Linked DNA regions of Homo sapiens: all the other regions are linked to region 3. The links come from fine-mapping of genetic effects on gene expression. A gene starts in region 3. Each other region holds a variant in brackets. All regions are shown on one strand. Distances are from middle to middle.

Region 1 (2,797 bases), 56 kb after region 3:
TGGGATGCAGCCAGGCATCTGGGATTTTTTATTATTTATTTATTTTATTTTTTAATTTTTGAGATGGAGTCTCACTCTGTCACCTAGGCTGGAGTGCAATGGCACGATCTCAGCTCACTGCCACCTCTGCCTCCCAGGTTCAAGCAATTCTCCTGCCTCAGCCTCCCGAGTAGCTGGGATTACAGGCACCCACCACCATGCCCGGCTAATTTTTGTATTTTTAGTATGGATGGGGTTTCACCACGTTGGCCAGGCTGGTCTGGAACTCCCTCAGCCTCCCAAAGTCCTGGGATTACAGGCGTGAGCCACTGCGCCAGGCCTGGCATCTGGGATTTTTAAAAGCTCCCCGAGTGATTCTAAATATGCAGCCAAGGTCGGGAACTATCTTTAAATCGACGCTTTTCAAACTATAACCAGTGCAGGAATCACCTAGAGATCTTGTTAAAATGCAGGTTCTGATTCAGAAGGTCTAGAGTGTGCCCAAGATTTTGCATTTTCTTAGGTCTCCAGGTGATGCTGCCACTGCTGGTGTGCAGACCACATTTTGAGTGAGAAGGCGTTAGTAAACCTACCCGACCCCACCTGCAAACTCCTAGGGTTCTGAATCTCCCCCTCCCCACTCTCCCACCTCCATCCCTGCTTCCCCACATCAGCAGGGTGTCCCTTAGGCCCCACCTTGTTCAGATGGCAGTGCAGGCCATTGTGGATAATGGAATGGAAGTTTTCTAGGCGGCTACCATGAAATGCATAGATTAGGTCTCGTTCTCCTTTGGTCTCATAAAATTTGGCGTTGGCTGGGTCAAAGTACTCAATTTCAAACAGGAAGTCCGGTGCAGGAACAGGCGTGTGAGGAGCCCCAGTCAGCTTTTGGATCTTTTCAAACTTGAAAACATGAAGAGCATCAAAATTTTATTTGGGGAGCTGGTAAATGTGCTGCAAAAATAGCCCCCTAAACTCTCAGGCTTAACTCCCATGGACTCTGCTCATGAGAACAACAGGTTTCATGAGGATAGAGACATAAGCAAACTCAGAGCGTATAGCACAAGACTGCTTTCTTTAATAACATTTTTCCCGGTCGGGTGTGGTGGCTCACACCTGTAATCCCAAAACTTTGGGAGGCCGAGGCAGGTGGATCATTTGAGGTCAGGAGTTCGAGACCAGCCTGACCAACATGGTGAAACCCCATCTCTACTAAAAATACAAAATTAGCCGGGTGTGGCAGTGCACACCTTTAGTCCCAGCTACTT[A/G]GGAGGCTGAGGCAGAAGAATCACTTGAACCTGGGAGGTGGAGGTTGCAGTGAGCAGAGATCACGTCACTGTACTCCAGACTGGGCAACAAGAGTGAAACTCCATTTAAAAAAATAATAATAATAAATAATAACATTTTTCCCTACAGTAGGCTGAGAAGCATGAATTGCTCCTTCTAAGTGGAGATCACAGGGCTGGGTGCGGTGGCTCACACCTGTAATCCCAGCACTTTGGGCGGCCGAGGCAGGCGGATCATGAGGTCAGGAGATCAAGACCATCCCAGCTAACACGGTGAAACCCCGTCTCTACTAAAAATACAAAAAATTAGCCGGGCGTGGTGGTGGGCGCCTGTAGTCCCAGCTACTCGGGAGGCTGAGGCAGGAGAATGGTGTGAACCCAGGAGGCAGAGCTTGCAGTGAGCCGAGATGGCGCCACTGCACTCCAGCCTGGGCGACAGAGCGAGACTCCGTCTCAAAAAATAAATAAATTAATTAATTAAATAATAATTAAAAAAATAAGTGGAGATCACTTCTAATTTTCCTAACTTTTTTTTTTTTTTTTTTTTTTTTTTTTGAGACAGTCTCGCTCTGTCGCCCAGGCTGGAGTGCAGTGACGCCATCTCAGCTCACTGCAACCTCTGCCCCTCCAGGTTTTTTAAGCAATTCTCTGCCTCAGCCTCCGGAGTAGCTGGGATTACAAGTGCGTGCCACCACCCCTGGCTAATTTTTTTTGTATTTTTAGTAGAGATGGGGTTTCACCATCTTGGCCAGGCTGGTCTTGAACTCCTGACCTCGTGATCCACCCGCCTCAGCCGCCCAAAGTGCTGGGATTACAGGCGTGAGCCACCACGCCCGGCCACTTCCTAACACTTTTACATCTATCTCCTGCATTCCATTTTTACAATCATCTCATGTTTATTGTAAAAATTCCCTCTCATCCTTGTCCATGCACCCCTCTGCAATGTGGTTTTGCAGGTGGGATTCTACCAAGATCCCATCAAAAGATGGAACCTACTTCTCCACCCTTAAGACTGTGCTTGGCCATGTGACCTGCTTTGGCCAACGGGACATTAACATATATATAGCAAACAGAGACTTGAGAAGGGCTTGTCTTTCCTTCTTTGCTGCTGAGAACCCCTCACCATTGTCCTGGCTTGTCTGCTATAGAGTATGAGCCTCACAGAGGAAGGCTTCCAGCATGGTGGCCATCCCAGCTGAAGCCCCAGAAATGTAAGTGAGGCCACCCTAGCTCATCCAGCCAAGCCCAGAACCACCCAACCAACCCACAAAATCATGAGAAGCAATTAGCATTTGTTGCTGTTGTTGTTTTTGAGACAGGATCTGGCTCTGTCGCCCAGGCTGGAGTGCAGTGGTGTGATCCTAGCTCATCGCAGCCTTGAACTCCTGGGTTCGAGCAATCCTCTATCCTCAGTTTCTTGAGTAGCTGGGACTATAGGTGCAACTACTATGTGCACCTAATTCTTAAATTTTTCATAGACAGAGGGTCTTGCTATGTTGCCCAGGCTGGTCTTGAACTCCAGCCTCAAGCAA
Region 2 (2,847 bases), 68 kb after region 3:
TATAGCTGGAGAGATAGCTGGGGGAATCTGAATGGTGAGCAGAGCTGAGAGCCTCAGGGGTTTGGGAAGAGAAGCCTCTTAGGAAAGAGGTACTTTGGGTGAATAGGCCTCACAGAGGAAAGAGAGGACCAATGAGCTACAAGGAAGCAACTCAACCTCCTTGCTTGGAGCAGGAGCAATCACTTAGATCACAAGCTCCTGGGGAGGAGGTGGCCCAGGAATCTGTGATTACAGATGTGGGTACAAGTGATTCTTATCATCAGGAAAAGCTGGAGATACTCAGGTTTAGATCTTAGACAATGTTGTCCTAGAAAGGTGCGGCAGCAGGAAAGAACAAACATCTGAAAAACATACTTGTCTAGGAAAGTGTCAGAGGTCACAGTTACTAGATGTGGGTGGAGGTGCTGAGAAGGAAATGAACCAAAGGTCTGCCAAGGTCACCATTTTTGGGACCACAGTGACACCCAGAACAGTGGGGCAGGGGCGATGAGTGGAGCTAGAAGGCTGCTGAAATGAAGGCTGAAGAGGTGGACACCACAGGTACAATTTGCTTTGCACAAACCTACAGTATGAAAGGCCAGATTTGCCAAAACAGATTAGGGATCAGAGTCTACAAAAGAACTCTTCACAGGAGGAGCCAGCATGGGGACCCTAAAGGGTTCTCCTAGGAAGTAGGGGTTCTCCTAGGAACTTTTAAAAGTCCTAGTGCCTGGGAGCAAGAGTGGTGTGCCATCACCACGTCCAGTGATTAGCTGATGGTGATGAAGATAATACTAAAACCTACAACCCTGAGTTGTTAGGAGGATTAAATGAGCTACGTGTAGTAACAGCTCAAGACAGCGCCACACAAACAGTAAGTGCTATTAGTGTGGTACAGGTGTTGGTTGCTATATTATTATTATCAATCAAATACCCTCTCTCTGCTGCTCACCAATCTGCTGAGGAAAGGTCTGCATTTCTGGGATCGTTGGAAGGAAAGAGATGGCTGGTCCTGGAGGGATGGATCCCACCCCTTCACCCTCCATATCACCATCCCATTAGCTGATATCTTTCTAGACACATACCTACCCACTGACAGTCACATAATATTATATGTATCTATGTCTGTATCCATATATTTTCAGACCTGTGTACTTTTTCTCCTCCACTGTTCAGATGCCATCTTTGAGAGGAGCAGAGAAATAA[A/G]AAGGTAATCTGAGAGATCAAGAATCTTACCTTGAGATATCAAGTATAGACCTAATAGGCACTTTTATTATTAACAAATCTAATTGTTATCATTTCCTCACCATCCAGCAGGTATGGGTGCTCATGAAAATGATCAAATCAGTTACTAGAAAAATAGAAAAGCTACATATTATCTGTAAGGAAACAAACAAAAAATCTCAATGCCAAGGCTGCACTTTAAACCAATCAAATGAGAATCTCTGAGGATGGGGCTCAGACGTCAGGGTTTTTTTTTTTCCTTAGTTTCCCACGTGATTTCAATGACAACCAAGGTTGAGAGGCTTGTAAAGAATGATCTTTCCAAACCGGGCTCAATGACACAACTCCTGCTTGAGACCAGGAGTTTGTAGACCAGCTAGGCAACATAGCGAGACTCCTGCCTTTTTTCTTTTAATCCAATAATAATAATAATAACGATCTTCCCCAGTTAATGTCAATATTCAATTTCCAATATGGAAATAAGCATCGAAAGCCTTCCTTAGAAAGGTTAGCCATGAGCCAGGTGTGGTGGTTCACGCCTGTAATCCCAGCATTTTGGAAGGTTGAGACAGGCGGATTGCTTGACTCCAGGAGTTTGAGACCAGCCTGGGCAACATGGTGAAACCCCATCTCTACTAAAAATACAAAAATTAGCCAGGCTTAGTGGTATGTGCGTGGAGTCCCAGCTACACGGGAGGCTGACGTAGGAGGATCGCTTGAGCCCGGGAGGCAGAGGTTGCACTGAGCCAAGATCACGCCACTGCACTCCAAACTGGGCAACAGAGCAAGAACTCGTCTCAAAAAAAAAAAAAAAAAAAATTAGCCATGGACCAGCAATTTCACCTCTCAGAATGTATCCAAGAAGACAACAACAGATATAAACAATGATTAATGTAGAAGGATGTTTATCAAAGTATTATTTATAAAAGCAAAATTTTAAAATTATAAAGAAACCCAAAAGAAGGACTCCTAACTGCTAGGGAGTGGAGGCACAGAATAAGGTGGAAATTTCACGTGTATCTTAAAGGATGAGAGGGAGTTTGCTTCAACAAAGATGGAAATGGCATCAGGAGGGCTCAGGACAGAGAGGAGCTTATATGCGCTTTAACCCAGACACTGGGGAGTCATGGTGTCTAGACAGTGCAAGCCAGAAACCAGAAAGAGGGAGGAAAAAAAAGAGAAAGACTCCTTACTCCTCCAGGACCAGGAGGCCCAATTAGAGCAGTTTGGCACCCCAAATGAGAACAGGGTAAGCTTCATGCAGTGCTTTTCAGACTTCACTATGTGTACAAATTGCCCAGATTTGTTAAAATGCAGATCCTGACTGGATAGGTCTGAGGCAGGACCTGCTTTTCTAATGAGCACCCAGGTGAGGCTCATGTTGCTGGTCCTCAACCACACTAAGCAGCGAGGGCCTGGAGCTAACACAAAGAAGCCATTCCCACACACTTCCCACCCCCAGAAAGGGTCTACAGGCTAATGGAGAACCAGAACATGCTATTTCGGGAGGGAAAACAGAACAAAAAACTGTACAGCTGCGACTGTGTCAAGTGACAAACCTGAAGTTCGGAGGCCAATGGTTAAGGGGTACAGGGAATCCCAAGAATGTTACAGGTTCTCTCATCCAACCCTGGTCCCAAAAAG
Region 3 (2,500 bases):
TGCACGGGCTGCAGCTGGAACACATTTCTGGCCTTTTTGTTTGGGGCCTGACTGGGAGTTACACAGCCAGGAGCCAGCTGACGGAAAGCAGAGGGGATGCATTGTGAGAGGCCAGGGCTCCCCAGTAACTGCTGAGCGTGGGTGAGGAACTGCAAGGGTCAGGAGAGGAAAGCAGGCCTGGGACAAGGGCAAGGAACTATGGGGCGTGCGTGGCCCAGGCCGCAGCTGAGCAGAACATTTTTATGTCTCCCCAGAGCTCCGGCCAACCCAGAATCTGACTCGTTTCTGGGGATTCAAAAGTGGTTCCCTTCAACATCCTAAGTCCAGGGTGTGGTAGGAAAGGGAAGAGTCCTCCTCTCTAAAAAATACACATATCTGAAAACACTGGGATATTCCAGGGGAAGAAAAAACCAGTCCCATGCTGCAGACCTTCTAGCTCTAAAACCACTGGCCCCACCACTACCTGTTTCTCGGATGAGGGAGCAGAGTCACCAGGACGTCCCAAAGGCCTCCACATTGTGTGTATCCCTCTGGGCTCCAAGCAGGGAGCTGAGCAGTCTGCTGGCCTGCACTGCATTCAGCCTGAGCCTGAGCCTGCTCCAGGGATGTCTGGAGGCTGAGGTGGCCTGAGACACCTTGTGGAAAAACCATTTCCCATCTGGCAGCCCACAGAGGTTTCTCAGCATCTCCGCCGTTTCCTCAGCATATGCCCTGATGGTTAGGCTTGCCATCCCACGCTCCTCAGAACACTTGGACAAAGCAGACTGGCTGACCGCAGGGAATAAAGCAGGGCACCCAGAGGTATGGAAACCCTAAGTGGGACCATCTGGGGGTTCCTGTCCTCAGGTGGGGGAGGGAGAGGACTTTGGGCCAATGGGGGAAAGCAGATTCCCAAAGCAGAAAGGGAGTCTTCTCTGTGGGAGATGAAGGATCAGGCAGCAAAAAGTGGGGGGAAGTGGGGAGAAGGGAATGGAGTAGTCAGGGGAGGGCAGGAGCAGTTGAGTCCAGCAGTGGGGTGCAGGGATGGGGTGAGGGGAATAGGAGTGGAGCTCACCGTGTCTTGAGCAGGACTCCTCAGCTGGGGGTCCAAGCCTTCGCCTCTCCAGCAGTCCAGTGCCGGCCTTATATAGCACAGCTGGTGGCTCAGCCTGTGGCAGCCAGCCAGAGGAAGCAGCAGCGAAACCAGATCTGAGCATGAGCCTCCCTCTCCCCTCCCCATGTCCCCTTGCAGTTCACAGAGGCCAGGATTTTATGTCCAGATCCTAAGGAGGAGATGCCGCAGGACCTGGTGATGGGCCAGGTGGGCAGTGGCCTGGGGCATCACAGTCCAGAGCAGAGAGAGGGGTCAGGAGGTGGGCTGGGCACTAGAAACAGCCCTGGGAAGGGGCCACGGGGAATTCTAGATCTGGGCAGCATTTCATGGCCCGGGGGATGGTGTGCTCTTGCCTAAGCCTAGCTTGCTGATGCCCCACATTCCCCTGGCCCTGGCTCGCCCACACAGAGAAAAGACTTTGCTGGTCTTAGCACATACTCCAAACACTCTTAGGCACACAGGCCACCTTGGCCTCTCAGCTGGGTGTGTCTGGTCTGAGTTGGGCAACTACTCAGCTTCTCTGGCTTCTGAGGGAACACTCAGGGAACCTCAGAAGGGATAAGGGACAAAAGAATTGTGGGGCATAGGTTGTCAGCTGGTGAGAACAGTTCTTCCTTTCTCCCCCCCACTTCCATCTGAGTGCCTGCTGGTACCCACTGAGACCCCAGAGCTCCAGCATGTGGACTCTTCTGAGACCCTGATGCTCATATATGTGCATGCGTGTGAGTACGTGTCTGCCTTCAGGTATAGGCATCCACCAGCATGTGAACAGCCAGTGTTACCCATAGGGGGCGTATGCAGCTGCATGTGCTCTGGGGCTTCACACCCCCACTCCCGGCCCCCTGGCCCCAGCATGAGGTTATCTGTTTGCACAGACACTGGTTCTCTAATTTTAGCATGTGTTAGAATCACCTGGAGGGCGGTTAAAGCAGATTTCTGGACCCCACACCCAGAGTTTCTGATTCAGTGGGGCCTGAGACTTTGCATTCTAACAAGTTCCCAGATGAGATTGATGCTGTTGGTTCATGGATCACATTTTGAGATTGACTGGTCACAGTGATAGAGCCCCAGTTGAAGGAAGAAGATGAAGAGCGAGTGTACTAAGGACCACAGTGGGAGCTTCCCAGGTCCTGCCCCATGTAGCAGGCTCATCTAGCCTGGGCTGGGCTTCCTGCCTCATGCCAGCAACTGGAGATGGAGGCCTGGTCCTGTGGCCATCCACGCCAGGGTCAGCTCACTCTCTCCACATACCTTTACCGAGCTCTTATTCCCAGGCTCTAGACTGGGCACTGGGAAGGCACAAGAAAAGAGATGTATCCTTGCACTCAGAGGAAAGAGCCTCACGTGGAAATGATCCCGTAGTACAACAGTGCATACCCACATGCCAGAGAGTTCTGTGTGTGTGTG

What was found. PIP is the estimated chance that this variant, and not a neighbour inherited with it, causes the effect. A credible set is the group of variants that fine-mapping cannot tell apart.
Region 1: its variant is the best candidate, but not a certain one, in a credible set for the expression of CILP in whole blood (TOPMed, PIP 0.62).
Region 2: its variant is the best candidate, but not a certain one, in a credible set for the expression of CILP in whole blood (TOPMed, PIP 0.65).

The regions. Positions count from the first base shown.
Region 1 is chr15:65,265,887-65,268,683 of GRCh38, forward strand. It overlaps PARP16 (poly(ADP-ribose) polymerase family member 16), which reads right to left. Exons shown (of 6, transcript NM_001316943.2): 3 at 676-882. Among named protein-coding and RNA genes, the nearest start is that of SNORA24B, 18 kb to the right of the region's middle. The variant A/G (reference allele first, on the strand shown) is at 1,248.
Region 2 is chr15:65,278,435-65,281,281 of GRCh38, forward strand. The region is part of intron 1 of PARP16 (poly(ADP-ribose) polymerase family member 16); the gene reads right to left. Among named protein-coding and RNA genes, the nearest start is that of SNORA24B, 5.7 kb to the right of the region's middle. The variant A/G (reference allele first, on the strand shown) is at 1,186.
Region 3 is chr15:65,210,374-65,212,873 of GRCh38, forward strand. It overlaps CILP (cartilage intermediate layer protein), which reads right to left and starts at 1,100. Exons shown (of 9, transcript NM_003613.4): 1 at 1,055-1,100. RefSeq lists an enhancer at 1,729-2,500.